Linked DNA regions of Homo sapiens: region 1 is linked to region 2. Evidence: fine-mapped expression QTL. A gene starts in region 2. The other region holds a variant in brackets. All regions are shown on one strand. Distances are from middle to middle.

The links.
Region 1: its variant is fine-mapped to the expression of PIK3C2B in whole blood (TOPMed, PIP above 0.99).

Annotation. Positions count from the first base shown.
Region 1 is chr1:204,450,712-204,466,507 of GRCh38, forward strand. PIK3C2B (phosphatidylinositol-4-phosphate 3-kinase catalytic subunit type 2 beta) reads right to left here. Exons shown (of 33, transcript NM_001377334.1): 3 at 14,508-14,608; 4 at 13,739-13,893; 5 at 13,301-13,421; 6 at 9,839-9,950; 7 at 9,613-9,692; 8 at 9,167-9,230; 9 at 7,017-7,163; 10 at 6,326-6,359; 11 at 5,145-5,340; 12 at 3,958-4,080. Among named protein-coding and RNA genes, the nearest start is that of PIK3C2B, 36 kb to the right of the region's middle. RefSeq lists enhancers at 2,417-2,526, 4,119-5,096, 6,604-7,105, 7,106-7,605 and silencers at 6,476-6,676, 11,490-11,784. The variant G/C (reference allele first, on the strand shown) is at 5,872.
Region 2 is chr1:204,488,943-204,504,738 of GRCh38, forward strand. It overlaps PIK3C2B (phosphatidylinositol-4-phosphate 3-kinase catalytic subunit type 2 beta), which reads right to left and starts at 5,863. Exons shown (of 33, transcript NM_001377334.1): 1 at 5,414-5,863. It overlaps LOC124904584 (translation initiation factor IF-2), which reads left to right and starts at 2,809. Exons shown (of 2, transcript XM_047439554.1): 1 at 2,809-2,819; 2 at 5,234-6,790. The coding sequence starts at 2,809. The coding sequence ends at 6,254. RefSeq lists silencers at 3,904-3,983, 5,543-6,012 and enhancers at 5,053-5,242, 5,313-5,442.

The DNA of each region.
Region 1 (15,796 bases), 38 kb before region 2:
TTCAAGCCCATAAGTTCTCTCCAGGTCCCTCAGTCTGAATCACACCTAGCCACTCCCTCTAAGCTCAGGATAAGGAACTGCTGGGTGGGGTGAAGTACACAGGGGAGGGGAGCTGTGGAAAGGCAGGGAGGACCCACGTTACCTTTCGGGGAAGCTGTCCCTGGGCCAAAGTCCATACTGTCACACCCTCCTGGCCAGCCCAGGGCCCAGCAACTTCTATGCCAGAGGGCGCAGAGGCAGGGCGGCCACCCCCAAGGTTGGCAGTTTCATGATAAAGCAGCCTGCCTCCACCGCTGTCCTCCAGAGGAATCTCCACCTAAGTGAGGCACTCCCTCCAGCCCACCACAGACTGGCAGAGCCCTGCTCTGTCCCAGCTGCCTCTACCCTGGGGGCCCACAGCTATAATTAGGGCCCCTCCAGCAGCCAGCAGACATGCCAGGCCAGGGCTTGGCTGGAGGTGACAAAGCACGGCTGCTGAGCCTATTTTGAGAGTTAGCTGATCCCTGGACCGCTACAGTGGGGCAGAGAATCAGCTGACCCCATAGCAAAGGGGAGAGGGAGCTGGTCCTGAGCCCTTTCTTTTCACCCAAGGAAGAAGCTTCCAGCTTCGTGTCTTAAGGAAAAGGGGAGTGAGAAGACTTTATGAGTGAAACCAGAGCCAGCCAAGGCCCTCTTCCCTTCAGTCCTTGGGTATATCTGGTATTCCACAACCTCTCCCACAGATCTTCACCCAGGGCTGGTCAGGATAACCATTATGTTGGCTGCAGCCCTTACCTTCCTCCCTGAGAAGCCCCTCTCCTTCCTGCAGCCCATTCAACAACCTCATATCACACAGGCTGCCTCCTCCAGGAAGGATTCCTGGAATGTGCTGGTTGGCTCCAGTCCCGGTTCTGCCACTCACAATCCTGGGCAACTTAATTCCCATCTCTGTGCCTCAGTTTCTCATCAGGGAAAAGGGGAACATAGCTTCACTTGCATGATGTGTGTGCAGACTGTGTACTTTTTGCTATGTGATGCTGTGGTTACTGCACTGGCACTGGCTTATACAGATAGTATTTTCATGCGCACGTATCCCCATGTATCAGCCAGTCTGTCAGTCACTTGGAACAGAGAAACCAAAACCAAGAGGGCTCCCCAGCTAAGAAGCCTGTGCCAAGTACTTTATTTACAGTGTCCTAACTGCTCCTCAAACAATCCTGTAGGGTAGGCCCTATTATCGCTACCATTCTAGGTTGAAAGACCTGCCCCAGGCTGCAACTACAGTAGGAAGGAGAGAATGACTGGCCCAAAGACTGTCCTCTGAACGCTGGCACGCCTTCCCCCAAATGTCCTGGTCTTGACCATGAAGGGCCAAGAAGTCTCATTCGGGGCTTCTGGATGGACAGTGCAAGATAGTGCCCTTCACAAGGCGCTAGGCAGGGGACTGCCCCTTTAAAATTCAAGGTGGGGATCTCAGGGAACAAAATGAAACTCATGGGGCAGGCTGGGCTGCCTCTCTACCTCTGATACTGTATGAGTAAAGGGTTTAAGGCCAATTTTTTAAAGTTCCTCCTGGGCCAGAACACTGTGCAGCACCCTTTTTTTTTTTTTTTTTTTTTTTTTGAGACAGGGTCTCGCTCTGTTGCCGAGGCTGGATACTCACTGCAGCCTTGACCTCCCAGGCTCAAGTGATTCTCCCACCTCAGCCTCCTAAGTAGCTGGAACCACAGGTGTATGCCACCACACTTGGCTAATTTTTTGTATTTTTTGTAGAGATTGGGTCTCCCTTGTTGCCCAGGCTGGCACCCCTTCTCTTGACAGCAGCAGTAATTGTGACCAAAAAATCCCAAGGGAATGGTGGAACTCAAGGGCCATTTAATGCAGCTATCCTCTGCCTGCAAGGAGTTTCTCCTGTCCTGGCAGTTGTTTGCTTGAGGACCTTTAATGCACACCCCATGTCCTTTTTTTTTTTTTTTTTTTTTAAGATAGGGTCTCACTCTGTTGCCCAGGCTATAGTGCAGTGGTGTGATCATGGCTCACTGCAGCCTCGACCTCCCAGGCTCAAGTGACTCTCCCACCTCAGCCTCTTAAGTAGCTAGGACTACAGATGCACGCCACCACACTCAGCTCATTTAAAATAATTTTTTAGTAGAGATAAGGCCTCTTTGTGTTGCCCAGGCTGGTCTCAAATTCCTGATCTCAAGTGATTATCCCGCCTTGTCCTCCCAAAGTACGGTGAGACTACAGGTGTGAGCCATCGTGCCCAGCCATATACACCTTTATTGCTCTAAGAATTACCTAAGTGTGAAGGGCATGAGAAAGGGTCCATTTTCCCAGTTGTCCATCTGTAAAAGGACCCACCTCTTCCAGCATCTCCAGATTCTTCATCTACCTATTTTGCATCCTCGGCCTCCCCAGGACCCTCCTCAGTCTCTTTAATCTGTGCTACAAATACTTAGCTTGCAGTGCTGCTCTGCAAATGAGGACTCTAATATAGTCAGTGTGGGGAAGCAAAGCCGGGGGCAGCAAACAGGGGATTTTCTGACTGACTGGAAGGAAGGTAGAGCATAGCACAGATGAAGCACAGGGCAGGAAAACCCCTGCGGTGCCCCCATTCAAGCAAGGCACCCTCTCCTCCGTTTCCTTCCTGCTTTGCTTGGCTGACGCCTACCTTCCCGACACCAAATTATTGTTTACATGTGGTGATTAATATTACCTTGTGCTTTTGGTTTCATATTTATATTTATAACCCACCTATCTCATCTCGACGCCATAACTGCCTCTGAGTGAAACCAATGTCCCCATTTCTCAGTTTGAAAAAATGAGGCACAGAAAGAATAGAGAGAAAGTAGTATTCGAGACAGAGCTAGAAATAGAGGCTCACTCCTGGGAATCCAAGCTCAATATTCTTTCTCTAGACAACCCTCCCTTCTCTATATATAAAGGGAAAAGCACAGTCTCCTCTCCATAGTCTACAGGAACTGAGGGAAGAAGGGAGAGGATGAGAAGCCCTCCAACTAGTTAAACTCTTTAAGGGAGACAAGATCAAAAAATAAAGTATTATTAAAATTAACAACTAACATTTAATTTTTTTTTTTTTGAGACAGAATTTCGCTCTTGTTGCCCAGGCTGGAGTGCAATGGCACGATCTCAGCTCACTACAACCTCCACCTCCCGGGTTCAAGCGATTCTCCTGCCTCAGCCTCCCTAGTAGCTGGGATTACAGGCATGCGCCACCATGCCCGGCTATTTTGTATTTTTTTTAGTAGAGACGAGGTTTCTCCATGTTGGTCAGGCTGGTCTTGAACTCCCTGCCTCAGGTGATCCGCCCGCCTCGGCCTCCCAAAGCGCTGGGATTACAAGCGTAAGCCACCGCGCCTGGTCAACAACTAAAATTTATATGTTTTTTATGGTTTACAAAGAGCCTTTATAGATACTTCTCATTGGATCCTCATGACAACTTGAGAAGTGGTAATTATACTTGGCTCCTTTAAGAGTCAGGGAAGTGGAGGCCAGGCGTGGTGGCTCACGCCTGTAATCCCAGCACTCTGGGAGGCCGAGGCGGGCAGATCACGAGGTCAGGAGATCGAGACTATCCTAGCTAACACATGGAAACCCCATCTCTGCTAAAAATACAAAAAATTAGCTGGGCGTGGTGGCGGGCGCCTGTAGTCCCAGCTACTCGGGAGGCTGAGACAGAAGAATGGCGTGAACCCAGGAGGCAGAGCTTGCAGTGAGCCGAGATCGCACCACTGCACTCCAGCTTGGGCAACAAAGCGAGGCTGCCTCTCAAAAAAAAAAAAAAAAAAAGAGTCAGGGAAGTGGAGACTCAAGAGGTTGAATGACTTGTCCAGTTAGGGTTAACAAGGAGCCTGGTTTTATCATTAGTCCTGGACTAGTTATCTGGCCCCAGGGATATTTCAGAGGCTGAGCAGGTCTACAGTGGCCTGGGCACTGAAGCCTGGGGGAAGGGCTTACTGCTGGTCCCAGACGATGAGGTGGAAGAGGTACTTGGAGAAGTGAGCTCTTCGGGTCTGCAGGGGGCTGCACAGCTCCTTGCCGCCATGGCTGAGGGAGCAGGAGAGGTAGAAATCTTCATAGCTATAAAAGAAAGGGAGCAGGTCAGGACACCCAGCTCCCAAAACCAATCACCCAAACCTATGCGTCCCTCTAAGGCCAAAATCCATTTCCCCTGGTAAAACTCTCAGTCTCTGAGGGCTGTAACACAGGATCTCCGGATAGGACAGCCAAACTGGATGTAAGGAAATGTGCTCAGGCCAAAGCAACTCAATCTAGATTCCTCTGCTCGGTTTTAGGCTCCATTCTGAGCCTTGTTGTTTTTCTTCCTTTAATGGGAACTGGCCACCCAGCCTCTTTATAGAAAGCTCCAGCCCATGGAGCGTCTGTGTGTGCGTGCGTGTGTGCGCGTGCACGTGCATGCGCAAGTGAGAAGGGTGGGGGAGGAAGACGACATATGCCGACATGAATGCCAACACACGGGGGTCCCTGTGGCTCATGACAGGTGCCTGACAGAAGAGGTCAGAGAAGGCCCCGGTTTCCCAGGCTGCCTCCTTTGTTCTCTGCCAATCGCCCAGAGGAATACATTAAGTAAGGAACAAAGAGAGAAGGGGAAGGGGGTTGGGGAAAGGGGACCGGCAGGGGCGGGGTAGGGCCCAGTGCCTATTCCCTCAGGCCTTGGATGCTGGGGACCCAACAGAGGCGCTGAGGATTTTACCAAAAGAACATCCTCCTCCACCCACCCCTGCAGGCCTAGAGAACCCCAGACAAAGGGTCAATCCCACCTCCCCACCCCCTCCCACTGGCCAGGGAGCGTGCACTCTATCTGGGAATCGGCCATCTGTTGCCATGTCTCCTTCCACTGGTCTTGGATCTGGAGGGGGCAGGGATGCAGAGGCAGCCAGCACCAAGAGGGAATAACAGGATCTTCTTCATCTCCTAAGGGACCTCCTCTCTCCTCTAGGATGTCCCCAGCCCAAGTCCTCCTCAGGCACTTGGCTCACCCCCGCAGCCCCATTGCACCACAATGTCACACAATGCCACACATCCTAAGACTTAGGACAGTGGTATTACATGCAGATAGGAAAAAGCCCTGGTGGAGGTCAAACTCAGCTTGCTCCCTAGCGGCTACTCAGCCCTGGGCTCACCTGGTAGCCCAGATGATGGGGATGCGGTGGGTGGCATAGACAGTGAAGGCCAGGGACCTGGCGAAATGGCAGGCCTCCTGGACCAGGTCATGCTTGCGGCTCCCGGGCACTGCCGTCTGGAAGTCTGCGTTGAATGTGTTGCAGTACAGCTCCACCAGGTCCAAGATGGCAGCGGTCAGGGCTTCCACGACCTTCTCTGGGAAGGGAAGGGGTCAGAAGGGAAAGTCATGAGGCCTCCACAAGCCCTACCTTGTTGCCATGGCATTGGCTAGAATGGGATGGCCTAAGACAGTGGTCCCCAAATGCTAGTCAGTCTCTAATAGCTGTGACAAAGTTCACCCATCTGCGGTAAAATGAGAAAAAAGCAGAAGCATGTCATGAGCTTTTCATAAAATGACAGTTATACAATGTTAAACATAATCCTTATTTTTACGTATTGCTACTTAGCATTAAAATGTCCTTTCTTTTAGGAAACAGTGTTAATAATTATTGTCAGTTGCTTCAAAAAAGCAAAAGTCAAAAAAGTTTGGCCAAGTAAAAGGCTGCCAATTCTCTCTTGGTCCCCCAAATACTTTGGGGGACATTTTACTGGTCTATGAAATCCAAAAGACTGGGAATCACCATAAGAATCCCAGGGATGCCAAAACAAAAAACAAAACCAAAACAAAGGAATCCCAGGGATATAGGTCAGTCTTAGGGCAAAGTTCAGCTTGAAGGGCACAACAGG[G/C]GAATCCTAGAAAAATCGTAGGGAAAATTCTTTCTCATCCTCTCCCAAGGCCCACTCTAAATCGGAAAGGTAGCAAGTGTGAGCTGTTGGGAGAATAATCACAATCTACCCAAGTGGGAGGCTTCCCATCTGGATCACAGGGCTAGTGCTGCCCCACCACCCCACTCCCACACTTCTACCCCCTCATCATCATCTCCCAGGGACACCAGGAGGAATGACTAGGAAAAATAATAAGAAAACACTTTGTGGAAAGAAATGTGCTCTCCAGCTGTATCCACACCTCATATAGGAACACACACACACACACACACACACACACACACACCCACACACACACACACACCAGCCGAACTCCGACACATAAATCAAGGGGCCCAGGCAGAAAAAGGAATCGGGGCAGAGACTGCAGTTTTCGGCAGCCCGACTGGATGAAGATGGAGAGCAGTTCCCTTACCTCGGTTTTCCCTCACAGCCAAGACACTGGGATCCTGTTGGGAAAAAGAAGAGGGAGGGGAGCTTCAGGGCCATAGCCTTTTTCGTCACAGCTGGAAGAAGGGCTTTTCACAGCTGCGCTCATCTGGACCAGAATGGGCTGAAATGTGAGTAGCTGAGAATCCCCAGAGAGGAGAGAGTAATGGTTTGTACCAGATCTGTATGATGGACAGAGTGAGCTGACGGAGGATAGCAATCATCGGGTCCACCCTTCTGAGATATCCCAACCCTCAGGCTACTCGGCTGCAGATCACAGTGCCTATGGTGCTGGCCCTGTCTGCAGAGCACACAGCCCCTGCTGGAGTCCTGGAGCCCCTGGCTCTAGAGAGATTTTCCTCCTGGTTTGTTTTTGCACCCTGATGGATATGCAGACTGTCAGGCAATGCCTTGGTGACTGTGAATAAAGCCTTTACTGGCCTGGGCTCTCAACAAGCAGTCCCAGGTAGCTCTCCCTCAACCTCAGGAAGAGGAGACACACTTGGCATCCATTTCTGAAGAGCTCTTGCGGTTGAATTCCTTAAACATAAAAGATGGAGGTGGAGAGAAGCCCCTTTTTAGTGAGTGAACACCTACACACTCTAGCAACAGGCAACTCAGTTACCTGACAGTATCCCTCTCTTCCTTTCCCCTGCTAGCACCCTGGGCCCCTTTACCTTCTGAATTTTAGGCTGCATGCGGGAGGGGCAGGGGGGCAGCTGGTTGAGAGCACTGGTGATCTCAGGGGTTTCCACGGCGGCCAGGGCGTTGCAGATGGCCTTGACGGACTGGACCACCCTGTCAGCCTTCAGTGGGAAGTCTCCCTGTGGGAGGTGGCACAGTGAGGCTGGCAGGCTCTGCTCTCATGCTCTTGGTCTCCAACCCCTCCCCACCCCAGTCTTTAAAGGAAAGGGTTGGGAAGAGTAGAGAGATTCATGATCCTCAGGGGTAAATGTGCAATACATTTTATTTTCAAATATTCATCATCAGCAAATAATCTCTCCCACTGAATTCAATGGGCCATGCCCACATGCCCCAATTCTTTCAGCCGTTCCCCTTGAAGCTCCTCCTATCTCTAGCCTCTCTCTATAGTTAGTCTACTTATACTATACACATATATACAGGGTCTCTCCCAGAGACCTGTAGAATTTCCAGACAGATCTCATCTCATTTCTACAGACATGCCACAGCCATAACCTCCCCTCTGGAATTATGCTCCTGGAATTCCCTCACCTGTCCAGCTCTGATTACCTATGTACATTTAAATCACAGAGCAGCTAAAATTCTACCTCCTGCATAAAGCCCTCCCTGGCCAATCCCCTTCCTCTAGCATCCTCCAGGAGCCCTTAATTAATTTATTACCATCCTGTTCTGTCTACTAATAGCTTTGTGTTACTATTCAATTTTTCTAACAAGAACACAAGCTCCCCAAAGGCTATGACAATTTTTTTTTTTTTTTTTGAGACGGAGTCTTGCTCTGTCACCCAGGCTAGAGTGCAATGGCGCGATCTCGGCTCACTGCAACCTCTGCCTCCCGGGTTCAAGCAATTCTCTTGCTTCAGCCTCCTGAATAGCTGGGATTACAGGCGCCTGCAACCACACCCAGTTAATTTTTGTATTTTTAGTAGAGATGGGGCTTCACCATGTTGGCCAGGCTGGTCTCGAACTCCTGACCTCAGGTGACCCGCCCACCTCAGCCTCCCAAAGTGCTGGGATTACAGGCGTGAGCCACCGCACCTGGCCAAGGCTATGACGATTCTTACACTTCTCTACCCATCGTAGCCACTAGCAAAGGGCCAGAACAGCACAGCACAGGTGTTCAGAGAGCTTCCCCCGCATCACTGGAAATGTTCAAGCACAGGCTGCTGGAGAAGGGATTCTGGCAGTGACTAGACATAATGCTGAACCCCTCAAAAAGGAAGCGTTTATGACTACTATTAACTGGATCAATGAGACAGGGATTGGTTTTTGTTTTGTTTTTTGAGATAGGGTCTCACTCTGTCACGCAGGCTGGAGTGCAATGGTGTGATCATAGCTCACTACACAGCCCCAAACTCCTGGGCTCAAGCGATCCTCCCACCTCAGCCTCCAGAGTAGCTGGGGCTACAGGTGTGTGCCACCATACCTGGCTAACTTTTGTATTTTTTGTAGAGATGGGGTCTTGCTGTGTTGCCCAGGCTGGCCTTGAACTTTGGGGTTCAAGCAATTCTCCCACCTCAGTTTCCCAAAGGGTTAGGATTACAGGCGTGGGCCATCACACTCAGCAAGGGATTATTTTTGAAGATCACTGTCAGATTTTCTTTGGCGTTGTGACATTTAAGACAAATGTTGACTCTCATGGTTTTGAGGCTTGAGACTCCGCATGAATCCAAGTGGGGAGGGCTCTGGCCCTCCCTACATGTGAAACCTTCTACCTCCTGATGGTTTCCTACCTGCGATAACAGCAAAACAGAACCTCTCAAACTGGAGGTTTCTGACATTGCTCATAGGATGCATGCTCCAGTGTACATCAAGTGCAGCAGCTGGGGGGTGACAGCTCTAGGTTCCTTAGCTCTGGAGACATCCTATTCCAGAGAATGGGACCAGCATGCAGTTTCCGACCTGCTTCTTCTATAGAGGAGCAGAATCCCTGACTACGCACTTGCCGTTGCCCAACATCTAGTAGTCTTAGTTTGCCCATGAGCGAGGGGTTAAAAAGAAGTGCTCTGCCAACAGATTTTCAGGCTCCACCCAGACCCCTCATAGTGCTGGGTGATCCCAGGAGGACTGAGGAAGGGGAGAGGAGGAGCTTTCGGGCAGCAGGGCCAGCCCCTGGATTCGTACTCACATCAGCCAGCAGGAAGGCATCCACCTCATTGTGGTAAGTGTCGAACAGAAGACTCAGGGCCTGCCTGGGAGTTGGGGGCAGGGAAAAACCACAGGAGAGGTCATGAAAGACCCAGTGCCCTGGGAAACCCATTTTCTCCCTCCCTCTCCTCAGCTCACACTCTGATTTAAAGGAGTTCCCACTCTTTCTATATGTCCTGTGAAGACATATAGAGGGAGAGTCTTTCTATTCTGCCACTTCTCGCCTGGAGAGAATGATGGCAAAGTTCCAGAGGGAAGAAATGAAACATGCCTGGAGTGGGGATCTTCTCTGATAAGATGTGTGGGCCCCAACCCCTGACACCTGCAAGAATCCCTTAGCCCTGACAGAAAGGCAAGCAGGCACATCTGATGGGATCCCTGCACAGTTCTTGTTTGGAGCACATCCAAGATGGTGCCCACACTCACCTGCTGATGGTCTGCTTGACAGGCCTCTCTTGGAGATGGACGAGGTAGTTCAAGGTGGAGGGGCTCTGGTCATCATTCACCTGTATAAGAAGTGACCTATTCAGAGAGGGGCGGTGCCCTTATCTCAGCTCAGCACTCCTACCCCCCTCCCACCTGATGTGTTCTATATTGTATTCCCATTCCACCTCCCCAGCCCTGGGCAACCCTCCACCACCCTCACACGAACCGTCCGGGCCAGGTCACTGCGCACAACCTTCTGCTCCATCAGCTGTAGCCGAATGTCAATGTCAAACTTGCGGCAGTATTGGATGTACTCATGACTGCCCAAGGCATGCTTGCTGGTAGGGTAGAGGGACAAGACCATTAGCATCCTGGGGACTCAGTGGCAAGGGAGATACATACCTTAGCCTTGGGGAGAGACATACAGAAAGAAGGTTTAGGTAAGGGGGTAGTACCCGTGTTGTACCCTACTTTGGCTCCTAGAAAATGACACGGTAGAGCTTAGGAGAAGGAACAGAGGTCTATCTAAACAAAAGCCACCTAATATACTTAATCCTTGGCCGGTATAAATATTGACTCTCTTAGATATTTATTACCCGTGTGGTAATCACTGGTTCACTCCAGGGCTGGGAACTGTTGGAGAGAGCGGGGAAACAGAGGCACATCACAGGGAGCAGTTGCTGAAGCCCTATCTTCTGGGCCTCTGTATAGGGGACAACCAGGAAGAGACATGTTGGAGTCCACCTGTGCTCAGGCTCCAGGGTGGGAGCTCAGCGAGAGACCCCTCTTCCAATGCTACCAACTAGGGTGCTGAGGCCAAAAAAACTTGGGGCAAGCCTACCAAGCCTCCAGATCAGTGTCCCCACCCAACTTCTTTTTCTGCCTTCCATCTGTTGGCCCTGCCTGCTTGTGAATAACCTTACAAATTTCTATGACTTCTTGAAAAGTCCCAAATGCATGCCAGTCCCACCTGCTCAAGCACCCATGTGTGAGACTCCCCCTTTCAGAGAGAAGGCCTAGGAGCCCTCGGCGATCCAACCTCTTCCTCTCTCCCAAATCACACCTTCAACAGCAAGGAAACCCAAGAGGAGGGGCAGAGGGAGAACTACCTCCAGGCCAGCACTGCAGGCCTGGGCCTGGCCTCAGCAGCTGGGTAACAGAAGCCGGAAAAGGACTTCCTTCCTCAGCAGAGCTGGGAATCTAGGCCAGAAATGGAGAGGAGAGGACAGGAGCATAAGGGGGGCAGTATATGTAAAAGCTGGCGGAGGTGCAGGGCCCAGGGTCGTCTAGGTCCCATGAGGGCTCGAGTGAGGGGTTCTCCACATCCTGAGAGGACCAAATCTCCGATCTAGACCCTCTCAGATCTAAGACTGAAGTGCAGCCAAAACCTGGAGGTGGTGAGGCTGGGCTGTGGGGCTGGGCCTGGTGGGAGAGCCTGGGAGGAAGGAAGAGTGTGGTGGGGCTGGGGGAGGTGGCAGGAAACCCAACCCTCCCACGGGACTGCCTCAAGGTTCTTATCTGAGAGCAGCCTGCATCCTGAACCCACTCACCCCCTCAGTATCAGCCCCTCCTGCCAGGCAGGGGTAGAAAATCTCAGGGCTTCCTTGGGAACTAGCAGATTTCTGGAACCCCCGGAGCGTCCTTTCCACCCCCATCCCAGGCAGTTGTCATGTGTTGGGGGTCTGGGGGCTGGGCCAGGAGACAGCATTGTGCTTTTCTGTTGGGTGGGAGTGGGGCTCCTAGGCCAGGAGTCATGCACACAGGTCCCCTGGGGACTTGCTTGATCTTCTCTGTGGAAGGCCTTCCTCTCTGTGCATTCAAGTGAGAGTATGAGGGGTGTGATCTGAGGACCGCTGACCCTGTCCCACCTCACTAAGAATATTTCACCTGAGTCTTAGCAGGAAGGTAGAACTTGACAGCTCCCACTACCTCCGGACCCAGGGGCTCCAGGATTTGGGGTGCTGCAAGGGAAATGGCAGTATCTGTGCAGCCCAGAGCCCTAGGACTTCTCTCCGTGGGCTGCTCCTTCCCTGCTGGTATTTACTGATTGCTCACAGGTCATTCTCACATTTCACCCTCACTGCAGCTTACAGAGGGCCCTGAGCATCAATCAGCCTTCACAACTAGTAAGTGGCAAGTCCGAATTCAAACCTGTGTAATGGCGTCAGCAGGAGCTCCAACTTATCCACTATGTCCCCTTTTTCCCTTCTAACAGTGGCAGGCCACCTGGCACTCTCTCTGCCAGGCAACCCTGAGTCTAGGACCCCTCCTGTTCCTCTAGGGGAAAAGTGTGTACATAAGTGAGTTTAAAGGTGGGGCACATTTGAAGGGTACCCTGGAGTTGTACCATACAGAACCCTGCCTCTTTCCTTTCCCTTAGCTTCGAGATGAGGAGGCAGAGGCCAGAAAGGACCCCACAATATCCTTAAATTTGAAATAAGCCCAGATAGCTGGGCACAGTGGCTCACACCTGTAATCCCAGCACTTTGGGAGGCCAAGGCGGGCAGATCACCCGAGGTCAGGAGTTCGAGACCAGCCTGGCCAACATGGTGAAACCCAGTCTCTATTAAAAAATACAAAAATTAGCCGGGCGTGGTGGTGCTTATGCCTGTAATCCCAGCTACTCAGGAGGCTGAGGCATGAGAATCGCTTGAGCCTGGGAGACGGAGGTTGCAGTGAGCTGAGTGAGATGGCGCCACAGCACTCCAGCCTGCACGACAGAGTGAGACTCTGTCTCAAAAAAAGAAAGAAGTCCAGAAATGAATCTTCCATCCTGACTGCCAAATCTTATGCTCTAGACATAGATCAACCATCCTTGCATCTAGACCTGAATGTAAGAGAGAGAAAAAGCAAGCAGTGGCACTTATAGGGCACTCCTAAGAAGTGAGACACAGGTCTCTCCTTTCTCTATTCCCAAAACGTGCTTCCTCCAAGTGGACAGAGACTGGGGGCAGGAGCGGCTCTGAAGCCTAAGAGAGGAAAGCAGATCTTATCTGTCTGCTGTCACACAGCTGTACCATCTGAGAAGTGATAACCTTGCCCCTGCCTCTCTTCCACTGCAGCCCTCCAGAGCCCAGGGTAGTGGAAAGGGGGTTGCCTCAGCTGGTCCACATCAGACTTTCCAGGGAGGCTGCTTTCCAGAGAGGGCACTGGATGGAGAGGAGCTGGAGGCACGCCTTTGGGAGGAGGATAACTAGCTGCACGGGCCAGCTGGGGAAAAGACTTGTTGGCAGGAGAATGGGGAGAGACAGTAATTGTAATTTCTCCCCTGGGCTCCACAAGGGAACTTCTGCCCAGTCCTCATTTTGCCCCAGCCATAAAAACACCACACATAATCTAGAGCAGGAGATACAGCACTACCCATATAGTCTCCCCAAGCCCACCCCTCCCCACAAATACACACATCTCTCCATAAGCAGAATCTGCAAGCAGATATGACCTAGTCTTTGCCTAATCCCAGCTCCAAGCTCTTTCCACAGCAGACTTGGCTCAGGACGTCAGCCAACCCTGCTGGAAGACAGAGCTCCTGGGGAAAGTGCTACGTGGCCGAGAGTGTGCCCAGAAAGCAGGAGTCTTGACTGTGGGATTGGGGCGGAGCTGCCAGGCCGGTCCCAGCACCAATCCCATGAAGCCCCCTCACAATCTTACTACCAGGAAGGCAGGGGCTACCTCCCACCCATTCACTCACTTCTGCAGGAACTCCTCCAGCCCGCAGGGCTTTAGCACAAAGTCACCCACGTCCACATTCCTCAGGTCATCATGGGTGTAGCACAGGGTCTGGTAGATAAGCAAGTCTACAGTGGAGGAACCTGTGAAGGGTAAGGTAGGGGGAGCAATCATGATGGATGTCAAGGCAGATGGGTCTCAGTTTCCCCACCCTGATCCCCCTTTCCAGCTAAGTATTCTCCAGCACCATCACCAACCAGATAAAGCAGGCAAGTAGTTCAGAGTTGAGGAAAGTGACTGTACTAGAATGCTGGCCCCATAGCCAGCCCCTCACCCCCAAAGGAGCATCCTCACTGCCCTTCATCTGGGCCACAAGATGAGGTGGAAATCGAGTCAAAACACAGTCATCCCCACCCCACTTCAAGGGATGCTCACATCCTCTCCCCCCTCACTAACTTACAGTTGCAGGTGAAAGTGAGTGCCTCTTGAAGCCTGTCACACAACACAGTCACCTTCAGGTTGACCTCATCCCCGAGGTGCTCTGGGCTAGGGGTGACAGCACTCCAGACATAGCCAGTGAGGAAGTAGTCTTGGATGTCAGAGCCAGATCGAAGGCTGTACAGGAAGAAAAAAAACCCTCACTGTGCCTTTAGAAGAGAGTAGTCAAGAAGACATCTGTTGGGAACCTCATGCTCTGAGGCTCAAGAGCCCCTCTGTCCCCACTCAGCCCAGCCCTCCAAATTTGCAGGCCAGGATGGGGGCAGTGGGGTAGCAGCTCTGAGAAACCCCCTTCTTGACACTTCTCTTATAATTGCAAAATGTTTCCCACCATTGAACAGTACAAATAGTTCTAAAATGACAAAGCTTTCCATGCTAAGTTTAATGGAAAATTTTTTATGAATCCATTTCCTTTCTCTTTTAGTTCCAGATAACACTCTTATCGCCAGCTGGGGTGCATTTGCTCTTAAGGGCAACTGAGGGTCAGACTCTAGAGTGATCAGGATACTTTGACCATTCAATGGAGGTTTCATGAATTTTGCTAAAAATGTGAGACTTCTAAGATTTCAAAAACCCTGCAGACACTTGTTGTAGGAAGCATTTTCATAGCTATGAACTGAGATTTACTTATTATGGTGCTTCTTCCCTCCTAAAGAAAGTTTGGAAATGGATGGCCCCCCTCCCCATCCCCCATAGCCCTCCCAAATCCCACCCCATTCTTTAACTCTTACATATCCAGCATGTGGCAAAATGCAGCAACCTCCTCATCTCTCTCTTCTGAGACCTCAAACAACTCATGGCCATTGGCAACAGTGTGGGGCCGGGAGCCCACCTTTAAGAGAAGAGCAGACGACTCAGTGCCTTTTTCCTCGTGGTGTCCCCTCCCTATGAGGTACTCCAGACCTAAACTCAAACTCTAGATGAAAAGACTTTCTAGTCACTCGACATCCAATGAAAGGGGCACAAGAACATATGGGACATCCGGGAATACATGTATCTGCTGTCCTAGGAGACCAGGAGCCAAGTTGAAGAAGGAGGCGAAGCTCTGGCTGAGATGGACAAGAGTGTGGCCAAAGCCACTTCAGGAGGGGACAGTCTGATAAGCGTGAGGCAGCCAGTAAGGCAATCCAGTGCTGTTGGGCCTCTCCTGCAACACGGGCTTTCCGGGGGATTCTCCCAGAGGCGTGACAGGGAGCAGAGCAGACAGCTGTTTTTCCCAGCCCCTCTACTGAGGCTAGAGCAGGTGGGCGGCCCAAATGGTGCCCAGGGAAGCTTGGCCCTGGTCTAAAGCCTCAATATCCACAAGCCCCATGGACCCAAAGCAGAGAGAGACCCAGAACCCTTAGATAGAGGAGATGACTCAGACACATGTGCCTTCTGGGTAAATGCTATTTGAGGAAGAAAGCGTCAAAGCAGTGGTCTGGGCAGGGGAGGACCTGGTAGAAGCTTGGCTCCTCTGGCTTCCGAGTCAGCCGGCTCTGAACGGCCGGAATGTCAGGGAGCCTGCCTTGGCCCCACTTCCTCTCTCAAAATACGTGTGTGGTGGTAGGATTCTCAGACAAGGTCCCAAACGGTCTCCCATCCCAGAGCTGCTTTCAGTCACCCAGGAGGGTTCCTAAAGAAGCCCCTAGCAAGGCCTGTAGCCCAGCCCTAGGGAGAAGGAAGTGAGGGGGAGGGAGAGCTGGTGCATGACAGGTTTCTGCCTGAGGGGTCTGCTCAGGGCAGCCTGGGAGGCCACACCAGGGACGAGGCTTCAGCTCAGATGGAGATAAGGCCGGCATGTGGTTCCAACAGCTGTTTCTGGCGGGAGTCTAGCTCCGGCCTGTGCACATAGCAACGCCTCACATCTCTCACCCAACCTCTTGGCTACTCTCAAGTCCTCTCTGCCTCTTGGGGCAGATGACAGCAACTGAGCTCCTCATTTGAATATCCAGACTGTTTCCTCTGGTTGACCCTCTCTTGTTAGGCTTGCTCCCCTGGGTGTGCATGGGCGGCGGGGGGTGGGGGTGCACAGAGGGGA
Region 2 (15,796 bases):
CCTATTGTCTTCCAGAAATGACTTTAAGAACCACTTGTGTCATTACTGGCTCTTGGGGAAGCTCCATCTCATTCAGGACTCGAGCCTCATGAACATTTTTTTTCTCACAGTCCCCTTCAGCATAGCACAGAAGGAACACAGGTTCTAGAGGTTTCCTGACCTAGACTCAAATTTTGGCTCCTCTCAAGTTAATTGTACAAGCTCTTTATTATTATTATTATTTTCAGAGACAGGGTCTCACTCTGTCACCCAGGCTACAGTGAAACCTGGATGCAATCAGAGTGGTGCAATTATAGCTCACTGCAGCCTCAAACTCCTGGGCTCAAAAGATCCTCCCACTTCAGCCTCCTGAGTAGCTGAGACCACAAGTGTGCGCCATCACACCCTAATTGTTTTTATTTTTATTTTTAGTAGAGACAAGGTCTTGCTATGTTGCCCAGGCTGGTCTCAAACTCCTTGGCTCAAGTGATCATCCCATGTCAGTCTCCCAAGTGCTGAGATTACAGCATAAGCCACTATTCCTGGCCCCTATCTTTTAATTTAAAAAAAAAAAAAAATCTGCCTCCTTAAAGTCTAGAGTGAAAATCTAATATCTCTGGCTACAATGTTCCTCTCCCAGGATCCCAAAACAACCCATTTGCAAACCACCTCCCTTTTCTTGGTGAGAATTAAATCCACTCTACTGGTGCTCGCAGTCACAGCAATTTCTTTCACTCTCTGGGAGACACACAGCATGGCGAGTCAGGAATGGGACAAACACTCTGCTTTCAGAAAATGAGGGCTCTTAGGGAGACGTCAATAGTTGAAGGGCTCCATCATTACTACTATCTGGGCTTTGCTTAGTTTATTACCTGAGACAAAAAGAACTCATACCTGATTCTTCTACCTGGCAAGGCAAACTGTAGTTTTTCCTCAAAATGGAATCCTTTTGGCCCTCTACTCTTCTTCCCTCATCCTTATAACTTACGGTTTGCTGCAAAGGACGCCATCTAGTATGAGAGAAAGAGAGAAAGATGTGGCTGGAGAGAATGCTTCCACTCAAGCTTCTTCCTGGTGGGCTTGGCTTAGCGAGGCTTGAGGAATGAGCCACGTGTGTGAAACAACTCTCTAATATTAGGCACCCACCTCTATGGTGGAACAGTGGCAGGAGTGACACAGTCATGATGGAAGGATAACAGTTTCCAAAGAGGCAAACAATCTTTGGCTTCTCTGAAATACTGTGAAGCCTCTGCTAGGTGAGACTTCCTACAGAGAGTTCTCAGGAAGAGGAAGGAGTGAATTGCTAAGGCTTCCTTCAGCCACAGGTCTTATTTCTGCTTCAGGACTACAGTGAACCTCTCTCTTCTTCCTTCTCTATACCCTGAGGGCCTCTGCTCCCCAAAGCACAAATGTCTTCTGATTCTTTAGTCTCCTTAACCAGGGTGATGATTTGGGGTGAGTGAATTCCATCCCAATGTCCCAGTGTTTTGGGGAAGTAAATTTCCCAAAGACAAAGCCACTAATTGGGTCGGCACGAAACTCCAAAGTGTTGCAGGATAGGTCCTTTCACGGGTCATGTTGTGATCTGCGGGGTAGGCGTTCAGTTCCAGCATTGCTACTAACTGCATGACCTTGAGAAAGTCACTTTTTCTCAGGGAAGTGATGGCCCAGGTCCTTTCCAGTTTTGATACTCTATGTGATCTTACAAAATGCAAGAACAAGCTGGGAGAGGTGGCTCATGCCCGTAATCCCAACACTTTGGGAGGCCGAGGTGGGAGGATCACTTGAGACCAGAAGTTCGAGATCAGTCTAGGCAACATAGTGAAATCCTGTCTCAACAGAAAAAGAAAAAAAAAAAAGGCAAGAATAGTCCCTCAAGTTTCATTTTATAAAACAGATGCAAAATAAAGCAGATATGAAAATACCAAAACAAGAAATCTGCCTTAATTTCCCCAGGATCCTCCAAGTCCCAAACCTTCTATTAGTGTTGCTCAGAAGGCAGCAATATGACTTGATCAGATTATCCCACATCTCTTCCTTCCTTGGAAGGTAGACATAGAAATAAAAATGCATAGAAAAGCAGATGAGGCCCAGAAAAATTTATTATGCCTACATGCCCATGAGATGTCCCAGGCTGGTGACGTCTCATGGGCATTCAAGGAATCCATTAAGAATGAATTCTGAGGCTGGACATGGTGACTCACACCTGTAATCCTGGCCCTTTGGGAGGCTGAGGCAGGTGGATCACCTGAGGTCAGGAGTTCGAGACCAGCCTGGCCAACATGGTGAAACCCTGTCTCTACTAAAAATACAAAAAATTAGCCAGGCATGGTGGCACACGCCTATAATCCCAGCTACTCGGGAGGCTGAAGCACAAGAATCCCTTGAACCTGGGAGACGGAGGTTGCAGGGAGCTGAGATGACACCACTGCACTCCAGTCTGGGTGACAGGGTGAGACTCTGTCTCAAAAAAAAAAAATGAATTCTGAGGCTGGACATAGTGGCTCATGCCTATAATCCTAACCCTTTGGGAGGCCAAGGCAGGAGGTTCCTTTGAGGCCAGGAGTTTGAGACCAGCCTGGGCAACATACTGAGACCCCATCTCTACAAAAACTTAAAAAATTAGCCACATGTAGTGGTGCATGCCTATAGTCCAAGCTACTCAGGGTGGGGACTGAGGTCGAAGGATCACTTGAGCCCACTGCACTCCAGCCTAGGCAACAGGGAGAGACCCTGTCTCAAGAACAAACAAAAAGAATGAACTCCACAATTTTGCTGTCCCTTTCTGTTCTCCCAAGACCCAATATCTCTCTGAGTAGCACTGAGGCTATGAACACAGGGTAAGGAGTGAGACTGCTTGCTTCAAATCCCACCTCTATCATTTACTAGCTGGCTGACATCAGTGAGTGTTAGTGATTACATTACTTGCCAGCTCAGCATTATCCTCTCTATAGGCAGTAGCCAGCCTTTGGAAGGTGTTTATCCCTCCTCAATTCCTACAAATATCATGAGGCATCCTTTCCTTCTCTCCCAGTTCCCATCCTGCCAACACTATTTAAAGAAAAATACCCAAGGAATACAGCAGTTACCTTGGTATTGTCACACTACTCTTTCCTTAGCAAGAAAGAAAAGGTCCCAAAACATTCCCTACTCCATGTGGCCCTCAGATCCCACCCTATCCCCATCCCTCACAGATCTCCCTCCCTTATGTGGGAGGCTAAACCCAGTAAGAATAATCATTTGTAAAGTACTCTGTAGTTTTCAGGGTACTTTTGCACACATGATTCTGTTTAGTTCTTGGTAAGCAGCATTTCATTATTAATCCTGTGAGCCATGGCTACTCCCCCACCTCCATTTTACAAATATACAAACTAAATCTTAGGTCCACAAATTGTCTGTGCTCACATAGCTAAAAAGAAAGTCACACCAAGACACTGTTTTCTCTACTACTTCACATTATGATGTCCAAGTTCACATCCTGGGAACATGAGGAGCCTGAACCTTATAGCTAGTTACAAGCCCCTAAAAGGAACAGAGACCTCATTTTTCTACCCACTGGTCCAGGCCAGGGCCATCCCAGCTGAAGCACCACAGACATGATATAGATGCAAAGCACCAGGCACAGGAGGAGTGGGGACACCACCAAGCGGGGACCAAAGGCCCACGAGGGTATAGAGTATCTGCCAGAGCATACTAGGTCATGACAAAGACCAAAGGCATTCCAGACCACCAAGGAAGTCCAAAGGAGCTCCCCCAGAAACAGCCCAAGTCCCCAGATAAACTGACCCTTCCTCACCCAGCACACCCCCTTGGCCCTTTCTCACTCATGCTTCCAGTGGAGAAGGAAATAGACAAGCAGCCGGGTCTGAGAGCTTGATCAGATTCAGCCATACACACTCAGCAGTAAGCTCAGAGCCATGGCAATCAAACCTCAGGCTCACCCAAAGGCCAAAGGAGAAGCAGCCACAGCCTGGGTCTAGGGCTCCAGCTCAGAGCCACCATCTCTTCAGATGCTGGCTGCCAAGCAGAGCTATAAAATGTGCCTCGACTTAATTTTTCCATGGACACAACCTCAAGATGGGCCAGCCAGACTCTGGAGGAGCTGGGATTCCAAAGTCTCACTGCCTGTCTGCTCTGGGATCGGCAGCTGGAGTTGGGGAGAGGGAAGTATTTGGGGGTCGGCATTGCCACCTCCTGGGCCATTTCTCTTCCTAATATCTTCCCAAAGCCTGATGCAGCAACAGAGTAAGTTTTCATTCAGCACTGATTCAGGGTTGGAATTTAGTACAAATTGCTTACATCTGCCTGGCCATATCCCAAATAGGTAGTTTAGAGCAAGGAGGAGGGGCAGCATTGGCCCACTTCTTGGAGCCCGGGTAGCCGCCTGCTAAAGAATCTGGTGCCATGCTGGGACCAGCCAGCCCAGGGTACAAAACTCTCCAACAGAGTTGAGAAAAAACAGCCCAAGAGAGCTGCCAGAGACAATACAGCGATTCCATCCCAGGCATGATTGGAAGGGCTGGGGCAGGGAAGCTACGAAGACCCCAGAAGCGGGTGGAGAGGAGAAAAGGCAGGCCTGAAGGAGCAAGAGCAATGGCAGAAAACACACACACACACACACACACACACACACTTCAACATCAGCCAACTAGGGTGTGTGCACTAACCTCATACATTTGGTAACCTCTTCCCACAATCCAGAAGCCTGCCAAGCCCCTGGGCTCCCCACCCTACTCCACCCCACACCAGCTTGGCAGCCTTGCTTGTGCTTCCTGCTGCGATTGCTCCTCCAACATCAAAGTCACCGCTGTCGGGAGCTGAAAATGAGGGACAAGTATAGGCCAGGAGAGCAGCGCCTTCTCCCAGCACCGGCGAACTCAGGCCTGAGGGTCCCTCTCCCTCTTTCAAGCTTTCAGTCTCCTTTTGCTGCAGTATCCTTATAAGGGAGAATCCAATTCTACCCTCCGCCCGACTAAGAAACGTACACATTCCCCAGGCTAGATGCCGACTTCTCACCCAGTCCACAGAAGGCACTAACCCCATCACAGGACAGGTTTTGCTTTTTTTATTTCTTATCTTAAATAAACAAACCCCAAAGCCATTGACTGGTTCAGATCGCCCTGCAGCTGGGAGCCAGGAAGTGTGTTTAGCGAGAAGGGGGTGGGGACGCGGGTGCCTGGAGCCCCAGAGGCCCTGAAGCTGCTGGAGTGGAGTGGAGTGGGGTGAGGGGCAACCTGCTCTGCCCGGCGGGCAGGAGCTCAGGCTCCCACGGCGTCCGCCGCTCAGCCCGCCGCCAGGAACCCTCGGCTGCTTCCATTGTTGCACCTCCGCTGTTGCCATGTTGGAGGGAGAGCCCCCTGACCTCGGCTGCCTCCACTCTGGGGGCACTTTACAGACGCTGGGGCCGATGCAACCCGCAGGATGCGTGTCCTACCTGCGCTAGCTGCTGGCTCTGCTGCAACATCCGACGTGTCTTGTGCCTGGCGACGTGGGCTGCTCGCTCCGCGCCTCCCGGGCTCGCTCTGCGGCTCCAGGCGCCTCTTGCACCAGCGCGAGAGGAGCTGGCCGGCCGCACGCCGCCTGCTCCCGGGCCGCTCCCCTCTCCAGGCTCCGCACAGACCCTAGGCTCCAAGGGGCAGAGGGAGAGGCAGCAAAGGGCGCAAGGACCAGCTTGTGGGGGTGGGGAGGGGTGCTCTCCGCCGAGAGCGTGCGCGAGCTCGCAGAGTCAGGCCACCCCGGGTGAGACAATAGCGGCAGCAGCGGGCGAGAGAGGGGAAGCCATCTCCCGGACACCCGGCGCACTGCACGGCGACGCGACGCTCGGCCAGACCCTGCCTGGACAGGCAGGCACCCGGCCGCCGGCTCCAGCCGCAGCGCCGAATCCGCCGCGAGCCGGAGGGCGGGGCGGCTGCTGGAACCCGGGCCGCCCTTCGCCTCTCCCCTCCCCTTCCCCCTCCTCTTCTCTTCTCCTCTCCTCCTCTCCCCTCCGACTCCCGCCCCACTTGCCATTGCGTGGGGGAAGAGAAACGCGCTGGCGTCAAGTTGTGCTCTGCAACCCAAGAGCCAGGATTTCCACTCCCCACTTGGGTGAGGGTTTTTGCGGATGGTCGTTAGTTTCCCCTGCTGGAACCCCTTGGCTTTGGGTCAGAGGAAAGCTCAATCATTCTGCTAGAAATGACGGTGCTGAGGTCCAGTTATCCGTTTCAGGAATTTCTACCATAATTACGGTAGCGATGTTCGGGGGATCCCCTACCTTGAGGGTTAGGTTGGGGTAGAGAGAGGCTGTCTCCGGGCTTTACACGCTCAGTGTCATTCGTCTTTCTGTCTCCTTCCTTCCTCCCTTTCTGGAAGGGGAGTCTCGTTTGTTTTTGTATTCGCCCAGGTGGATCTTCCGAGCTGCGATCCAGGAAACAGCAGTCAACCTAAGTAGGGAGGGGAGATAGAGGATCCTCCAACCCAACTAGGGTAGTGAGAAAAAAAAGTAAAAAAAAAAAACCTTTCATACAATATGTTATATTTAAATTTTCTACTCTAAATACCTTTCTTCCAGCAGTGGTCTCTGGAAGAATTTTCCTAAAGGCTCCACCCAAAAGAAACCATGAGTTGGCCAGCTCCTCGTTTGCATTTGGTTTGCATAGTACCAACGATCACTAATCTCAAAGTATATTTTCCTAAAAACGTGAATCGTGTTTTCCTCCACTGCCCTCATTTCTTCTTTCTTTCTCGACAGACTATGAAGATTAACACCTGGTCCTCAGCCTCTCAAGTAAAACCATGATTAAATAAATTTGTTATGCTTTTCTCTGGTTAACTTGTCTTTTGTTATAGAAGTGTCGGCTGTGACTCTTATGATGGGGAGGAAAGGGATCACTCCCCTTTCTGATCCTACAGTGCCTTCTGTACCCAATGCTTGTGACTTTCAGTATTCCACTTCACCCTCTGAATATCAAGAATAGCGTCCTCACCTATCACGCTTTCGTAATGATCAAAGGAGAGAATGTAGGTGAAACATCTTGATAATTAACTGAAGGCAGCTTGGTCTGCACATATGTCATAATGTATATGATGCTACTCCTGATCTCAGGAGCCACAGGGGTTAAAAAACGTGTCCGTGCACTTCTTCACCATACAAATATTTATGACAGCTTACTCTGTGTCTGTCATCAGGTCAAGCTCAGGAGCCTGAGAGAACAGAGTGTTACAGGGGCCACTGGTGGTTCTTTTTTTTTTTTTTTTTTTTGAGACGGAGTCTTGCTCTGTCGCCCAGGCTGGAGTGCAGTGGCGTGATCTCGGCTCGCTGCAAGCTCTGCCTCCCGGGTTCACGCCATTCTTCTGGCCCAGCCTCCGGAGTAGCTGGGACTACAGGCGCCCGCCACTATGCCCAGCTAATTTTTTCTTTTTTTTTTTTTTTTTTTTTGTATTTTTAGTAGAGACAGGGTTTCACCGTGTTAGCCAGGATGGTCTCGATCTCCTGACCTTGTGTTCCACCCACCTCGGCCTCCCAAAGTGCTGGGATTACAGGCGTGAGCCACCGCGCCCGGCGACCACTGGTGGTTCTATGCTGCTGGGGTGAAAAGTCTGAAGGAAAGAACTAACAGGAAGTAGGCATAGGTAGCTGAGTGGAGGATCAGATCACAGGCTTTATCATGCATTTTGGTAAGGAAAAAATTGAATAAAGAGAAACCAGGGCATGCCAAAAAGTTTAGGTGCTGTAGGTGACAGAGAACCTGCTGTGCACAAATGGAACTGGGAAGTAGTGTGACCAGAAAAAGACTTCCTGGCATATTATAGAGAAGGATTTGGAAGATGCACTGCATGTCTTCCGTTTGCCCCTCCAGATCTTCCTGGCCCTCTGGCTTCCTAGACTGGGTTGGCCAATGGGGGCCATGGCTGAAGATTGAATAAGGAGGGAGGTCAGGGGAAACTGGATATTTATTCTTCAGGATTCCTCTCTTTGGGGTCACAGTGCGCTGGCTGCCACCCTCAACCAAAGATCACAGCTTCCACGGGTGGTTCTCTCTCCCCTCCCTCTCTCTTTTGTTTTTCTTTTTTTCTTTTTCTTGAGACCGAGTCTCACTCTATTGCCCAGGCTGGAGTGCAGTGGCTTACTGCAACCTCTGCCTCCCGGGTGCAAGCGATTCTCCTGCCTCAGCCTCCTGAGTAGCTGGGACTACAGGCGCATGCCACCATGCCCGGCCAAATTTTTTTTGTATTTTTAGTAGAGACAGGGTTTCACTTTGTTAGCCAGGATGGTCTCAATCTCCTGACCTCATGATCCACCCTCCTCAGCCTCCCAAAGTGCTGGGATTACAGGCGTGAGCCACAGTGCCAGCCCCCTCCCTCTCTCTTGATTCAGGTAATCACTCCCCTCCTTTGACTTTTCGGGCCTGGGGGTGGAAACATTGATTTGCTACTGGCCCTAGTAGATTGTACACTATTTCTTGTGGTTTTCCTGTACTCCGCCGACCCTTTATAAATTGTCCCCTTATTTTTTAACCTCTCCTCAAATTACCCCTCAAGTGCAGTGTGCCATTTGCTTTCTGCCAGGACCTAGTAACACAAGTCAGGAGTGCAGCCTGGGAGCTCAACAGAGAAACCATGGCTACGTTCCAGGTGGGAAATCAGGGAATCTCAAAACTGTGCCAGAGCTGTGGCAGTGGGGATGAAAAAAACGGAGCAGATACAAAAGATACTTATAAAGAGAAATCAATAGTATTTGATAAATATATAAAATGTAGGAAATTAGGGAAGAGGAGGACTCTGGAATTACTCCCCATTTGAAGCCTTAGAAATTGTTGGCAGGTGGTACCATTCCCTAAGTTAGGGACAATTAGAAAGACAGGGCCCAGGTGTTGGCAGAGGGATCTTGAGCTTAATTTTGAACATGTTGGGTTTGAGGTATCTGTGGAATGTCTAGATGGGGATGTCTAGTAGACAGCAAACTTATGAAACTAAACTCATATTGGGGTGTGAACAAGTGATAGCAGCTTTGGATTCTGTAGGTTATGGGTAGTCAGTGAAGTTATAAGCCTGTATGAGGTCGTCCAGATGGGCATAAGGAGGAAAGAAGAAACAACCAGAGAGGTAAGAGAAAAACTGGAGGCCACAGAGTGTCAGAAACTAGGGTGGGAGAATCTCAGAAGAGAATGACTGGATAACCAGTGCAGCAGGAACCTCCAGGAGGGTAGGCTAGAAAATGCCTCCAGTGGATTCTAGGCCTAATTCATTCCCTGATTCAAAGCTGGTGCTCAATAAATTATTGGTCACTAAGTGAATGAATGAACCTGGATCTGGAATAAAAGACACATGCTTTTTCTAGAAGCTTGGCAATTTAAGACAAGGAGAAATATAAGGCAGTGGGTAGAGGGGAATGCAGGATCAAAGGGGAGACTTTTGTTTTTTCTTTTTAGGATAAGAAAGGCTTAAGCATTTTCATATGCTGAAGAGTAAGACCAAGGAGAGCGAGATCATGAATAGGAGGGAGTTGGGACCCAGGTATATGGGGTGGAGCTGCCTCTGATATCTTTGAGAGGAAGGCTGTACAAAAGCAGAGGCATCTGTAGACTGGTAAAGAGACTAGAACTTGAGACTAGATGTTGAGAGGACTAGTTGCTGCCTTGTAGTCTCTAAGCAATCTGCTGAGAGAGAAAGGCTCAAGATGAGGTTAAAGGCTTAAAGAAAGTGGTTAAGGTTGCTGGGCACGGTGGCTCACGCCTATAATCCCAGAACTTTGGGAGGCCGAGGTGGACGCATCACCTAAGGTCGGGAGTTCCAGACTAGCCTGACCAACATGGAGAAACCCCGTCTCTACTAAAGATACAAAAATAGCTGGGCGTGGTGGCGCATGCCTGTAATACCAGCTACTCGGGAAGCTAAGGCAGGAGAATCGCTTGAACCAGGGAGGCAGAGGTTGCGGTGAGCCGAGATCGCGCCATTGTACTCCAGGCTGGGCAACAAGAGTGAAACTCCATCTCAAAAAAAAAAAGTGGTTAAGGTTAAAATAGAAAGGAATAAGGAATGAGAGTGGTAGCTCCAGAGAGAGGAGAGAGAGAGAGAATTGTCAGCAGAGTTGAAGATACAGCTGGCATTGGATACTCTAATATGTTGTGGCTATGAATAAAAACATCCGAATGTTTTCATCATTTTCTTCTGCAGCACTTGGAAGCCCAGGTGTAGAACATGAGGTCAGGTTTCCAAGATAGGTACAGTAGAGGCATAAAAGGAAAAGAGGGCTCCTGACAAAAGAGGAAGTCCTCAAGGACGGAAGTGAAGCTCAGCAAAGGCTGTGAATCTTCAAGAAGCGGGAGGAAAGGGACTGAGCTACCTCTAATCTTATTCCCCTTCCAATCTTTTCTCAAGTAACCCAGCCAGGGTGATGTTTCCAAAGCAAACATCTGCTTCTCCTGCTTAAAATCAACTAACATGTAGGACATGGCATTTTTTGACTTTGGTTTTTAAACATCTGTATTCTCAGAGCCTAGAACAATGCCTGGCACTTGTGCTCACAAAATTTTTGGCAGATGAATTAATGCATGACTTTCTCTAACTCTTAAAGTCCAATCTCCTAAGGAAACTCTGAATTCTCTCACAGTCAGCCCTTGCTTTTCATTCTAGCCTCAGAGAACAAGGACTTTGTCTTGTGCATCCCTGCATCTCCCAAACTGCACCCACCACATAGTATTCAATAAATATGTATTGAATGAATAGCCTCCCACATTCCAATGTAAACTTCATACTTGGGCCTTACGAAACTCCCTACAGTTCCTAGAATGCACAATATTCTCACCTAACGGCCCTTCCACATGGTTTCCTGGAAAGGGCCTCCTACCTCCAATCCCCACCTCTACCCGCTTCCTTTTATGCAGCTGTCTCTCTACATGGTAGGCAGAATAATGGCCTCCCAAAGGAGGAAATGTCCACTTCCTAATCCCTGGAACCTATGGCTGCATTATTTTACAAGGCAAAAGGATTTTACGGATGTGATTAAGTTAAGGCCCTTGGGAGTGGAAGATTAGCCTGGATTATCCAGGTGGGCCCAATCTAATTACGTCAGTCCTTAAAAGCTGCAAACCTTTCCTAGCCGAAGTCAGGGAGAGATGTGATGACGCAAGACTGGTTGGAAAAATGCAACATTGCTGGCTTGAAAGTTGAAGCATGGAGGTCCTGAGCTGGAGGGGGTGAATGGCCTCTAGAAACTGGAAAGGTCAAAAAACAGATCCTGCCCTAGAGCCTCCAGGAAGGAACATGACCCTGCAGATACTTGATTTTAGCCCAGTGAACCCCATGTTGGGCTTTTGATCTGCAGAACTGTAGGATAATAAATTTGTGTTCCTTTAATCCACTAAATTTGTGGTCATTTGTTATAGCAGCAATAACAAACTAATACATCCTACAACAAATTCTCTGCAAAGTTTCCCTAGAGTGCCTCCTAAGAGTGTCTAGACACACCCAATAGCTACTTGGATTATAACACTGATCATGGGTGTTATATATAATTGCTTGTCCACTTTTTTCTGAATTGGGGAGGGGACAGAAGAGGAGGGCAACGGACTGTAAGCGCCTTAAAGACAAGGAATCTCCATTATTTTTACCTTTGAATTTCTAGGCCTAATTCATTGCCTCATTCAAAGCTGGTGCTCAATAAATTCTTGGTCAATAAGTGAATGGATGAAAACCTGGATCTAGTTTACAGGAAGACAGAGTGACTGAGCCAGAAAATGAAAAGCTTGAGAGTCTAAGATTTCAGTGGTGACCGGGTGTGATGGCTCATGCCTGTAACCCTGGCACTATGGGAGGCCTAGGCTGGTGGATTGCTTGAGCCCAGGGGTTCAAGACCAGCCTGGGCAATATGGCAAAACCTCATCTCTACAAAAAACACAAAAAATTAGCTGGGCATGGTGGTGTGTACCTGTACTACCAGCTACCCAGGAGGCTGAGGTGGGAGGATCACCTGAGTCCAGGAGGTCGAGGCTGCAGTGAGCCATGATGGTACAACTGCATGCCAACCTGGGCAACAGAGTTGAGGTCCTATCTTAAAAAAAAAAAAGATTTCAGTGGTAATAATAAGTAGATTACTGGTGAGGGAGCAAATGGCTGAAATCAATGGAAGGAGATGATGGTAGAATCTGTTTATCTGTGCTATATTCTCTCATAGGTCTGCTCTAGGCTAGGACTAATCTGTAATACAACTCAAAACTAATATTTTGAAAGACAGTATTTATAACAATTTTATTTTAAAATCCTTCAGTAGGCTTTCTTCAAAAATATTCAAATATCTTTGAAAGATGATTGGATGTTAGAGATGGGGTGGGGTGCTCTGTAAATATTTTATGTATAGATTGACTTCTTCAATCCTTTGACTCTTACTGGCTTTGAAATCAGTCCTACTTCTTCCCTACACCTTTTCAATGATCCATGACATTTGAGGGCTGCATTGTTTAGGGAGTATTTATTCCAGTATCTGAGCTCTTGATGCTATGTAAGATTCTTGGGCTCAGCCAGGCATGGTGGTTCATGCCTATAATTCCAACAGTTTGTGAGGCTGAAGCAGGAGGATCCCTTGAGCTAAGGGAGTATAAAAGTAGCCTGGGCAACATACCAAGACCCCATCTCTACGAAAACATTTTTAAAAAAAATTCACCAGGCATGGTGGTGCATGCCTGTAGTCCCAGCTACTCTGGAGGCAGAAGTGAGAGAATCACTTGAGCCAGGAGATTGAGGTCACAGTAAGCTATGATTGCAACACTGTCTCAAAACAAACAAACAAACAAAAACAACCTGTACTATACATCTTCTTAGTACCTTGTGATGGTGTCAGCTCCAAAGACTCTATGCACTATACTGTGGCGATAGAAGACTGGGCCCCAGAGTAGGTAGCTACGACTTGGTGTTGGTTTGGGGAACTCTGGGAAGGAAGGGTCCACAACTTTCCCCCTCTGTGCCTAGCTCACTGCTGTGGAAACAGTGGGTAATCAGATTGATGGTGATTTTTTTCCAAAGGCAGTAATTCTGATGAGAAGGAGGGTAAAAAACATCCCTTTAAAGATTATTATAGTAGGGATCAACAAAATGAAAAGGCAACATACAGAACGGGAGAAAATATTTGCAAACCATATATCTGATCAGGGATTAACATACAAAATATATAAGGAACTCATAAAACTCAATAGCAAAACAAAACAAAAACAAATAACCAGAATTTTGTTTGAATGTGCAAAGGACTTCAATCAACATTTTCCCAGAGAAGACATACAAATGACCCACAGGTATATGAAAAGGTGCTCGACATCATTAATCATCAGAGAAGTGTAAGGCAAAACCATAACGAGATATCACCTCACACCTGGTAGTGTGGCTACTCTCAAAAAGTCAAAAGATTACAAGTGATGTCGAGGGTGTGGAGAAAAGGGATCTTTGTACACTGTTGGTGGGAATGTAAACTGGTACAGCCATATGGAAAACAGTATGGAGTTTCCTTTAAAATATTAAAAATAGAACTACTGTAAGAACCAGCAATCCCACTTCTGGGAATATATCCAAAGGAAATGAAATCAGTATGTTAAAGAGAGATCTGTGCTTCCATGTTCATCGCAGCATTATTCACAATTGACAAGATGTGGAATCAGCAGAAGTATCTGTCTACAGGTGACTGGATAAAAAATATGGGGTCCGGGTGCGGTGGCTCATGCCTGTTATCCCAGCACTTTGGGAGGCCGAGGTGGGCAGATCACCTGAGGTCAGGAGTTCAAGACCAGTCTGGCCAAAATGATGATGAAACCCTGTCTCATTAAAAATACAAAAATTAGCTGGGCGTGGTGGCAGGCGCCTGTAGTCCCAGTTGCTTGGGAAGCTGAGGCAGGAAAATCACTTGAAACCAGGAGGCAGAGGATGAGGTTGCAGTGAGCTGAGACCATGCCACTGCACTCCAGCCTGGACAACAAGGGTGAAACTCCATCTAAAGAAAAAAAAAAAAGAAACAAAGAAAGAAAATGTGATACATAAGGAAATCCTGCCATTTGCGACAACATGGACAAATCTGGAGGACTTTATGCTAAGTGAAATAAGCTAGAAACAGAAAGACAAATACTATATTATTTCACTTATATGTGGAATCCAAAAAAGTTAAACTCATAGAAACAGCAGAATGATTACCATGGGGCTGGCAGGTGAGGGAAACAAATAGATCTTGATCAAACAGTACAAATTTTCAGTCGTAAGATGAATAAATTTCGGGGATCTAACATACAGTACAGTGACTATAGTTATTAATAATGTATGGTGTACTTGAAATTTGCTAAGAGTGTAATCTCAAGTGTTCTCACCACACCACACGCACACAGTTTAAAAATAGTGGGAGAAATTAAATTTAAGAACTAGGAGAATCACCAAATATATAGAATCTGTGAGTTTAGCCTGCCCTCTAGTGGGAAAATTAAGTTCAACAGTCTGCATAAAGAAGCTTCAAGAAGCACTCCAGGAAGATTTTATGCTAAAGTACAAGATGGCACTTGTGGTGTTTTTGATGCAACATAAATGAAGCAAACAGATTCATTTCATGCTATTTCGGGTGGACTTTGCAATGTTAACAAGCCGATCTTTCAATAGCTCACCATTGCCTGTAGGATAAAATCGTTTGCCTTAGCCTGATGGAAGTGTAGTCTCCAATGTGACCTTACTCCTCTGTATCTCCTTCTGCTCCAACAAGATTAAGTTATTCCCCATTCTCTAAATACACCTTGCAGTCCCCACATTCCTTCCAGATTTCCTGTTTTCCTCCCTACTGTGCCTAGCTCACTGCTGTGGAAGCAGTGGGTAATGAGTAAGCAAATTTTAGATTGATTAATCCCATTCAGTTTAATTTTAAACAGCAGGTTTTGTTATCCCGGAAGAAAGGGAGTGTGATGTAACAAAGCCTTGGGGAGGAAAAAACTTGAAGACCCCTTTATCTATTCTTGCCCTTTTAAGGAGGCCTGGATAGACACCATTTCCCTTCCCTAAAATTTAAGTGTTATAATTTATTTCCACATCTCATTCATAGAAACAGTTCTAGCAGTTTTTCCTTATCTAACACAGTGGGTGCTGAAAAAAATATGTCTAAATAAATAAATGTCTGTGTTTTGCTCATTACAATTTCTTCAGTACACCTCTAACATTGTTTAAACTGTTTTACTGTTTAACTTGTTTAAACTGTTTAAACTGAAATATGATCATGCAGTTTCCCTGCTGAAAACTCAAGGGCCCAGCCACCCTTATTTTATAAACCCTGCTTTCCTGTCCATCTTCATCTGCCGCCACTCCACTTTATGTTGAAATTGTTTGTTTCTGTGTGTGTCTTCTTTCCTAGACTGTTAGCAGGACCCATGTCCTACTCATCTCAGACTCTAGGGCTAGCGCATAGCCTAACCTGTAATAGACGATCAGTAAATGTTTGTTGAATTAAATCACTCCATTCTGGCAAATTTTGAGTCTGTTCCTTCTAATCTTATTCACAATGGAAAAAAGTAACAGAATGGTAAAACTTTAGAATTACAAGTTATCTCGAGGCCATCTAATCAATTTCCCTTGTTTTATAAATGTGGAAACCCAGGCCTGCTCAGGATCACACAGTTTGTTGGTCTTTGTTCTGTAAGAATCAGACAATTGTAGGAAAGAAAAATTCCTCCAACTGAGGCTGAGCTATTTTGTTGTTCATTGTGTTCAGAAGCCACTAGTTCCCAGAAACTAAAATAAATTCCCTTATCAGTATTTGAAATTTCATAATCTTGTGTTCCACACCCCATGTGTCAGGGTTGATGAAATTTGATTTTAGGTGGCTGGG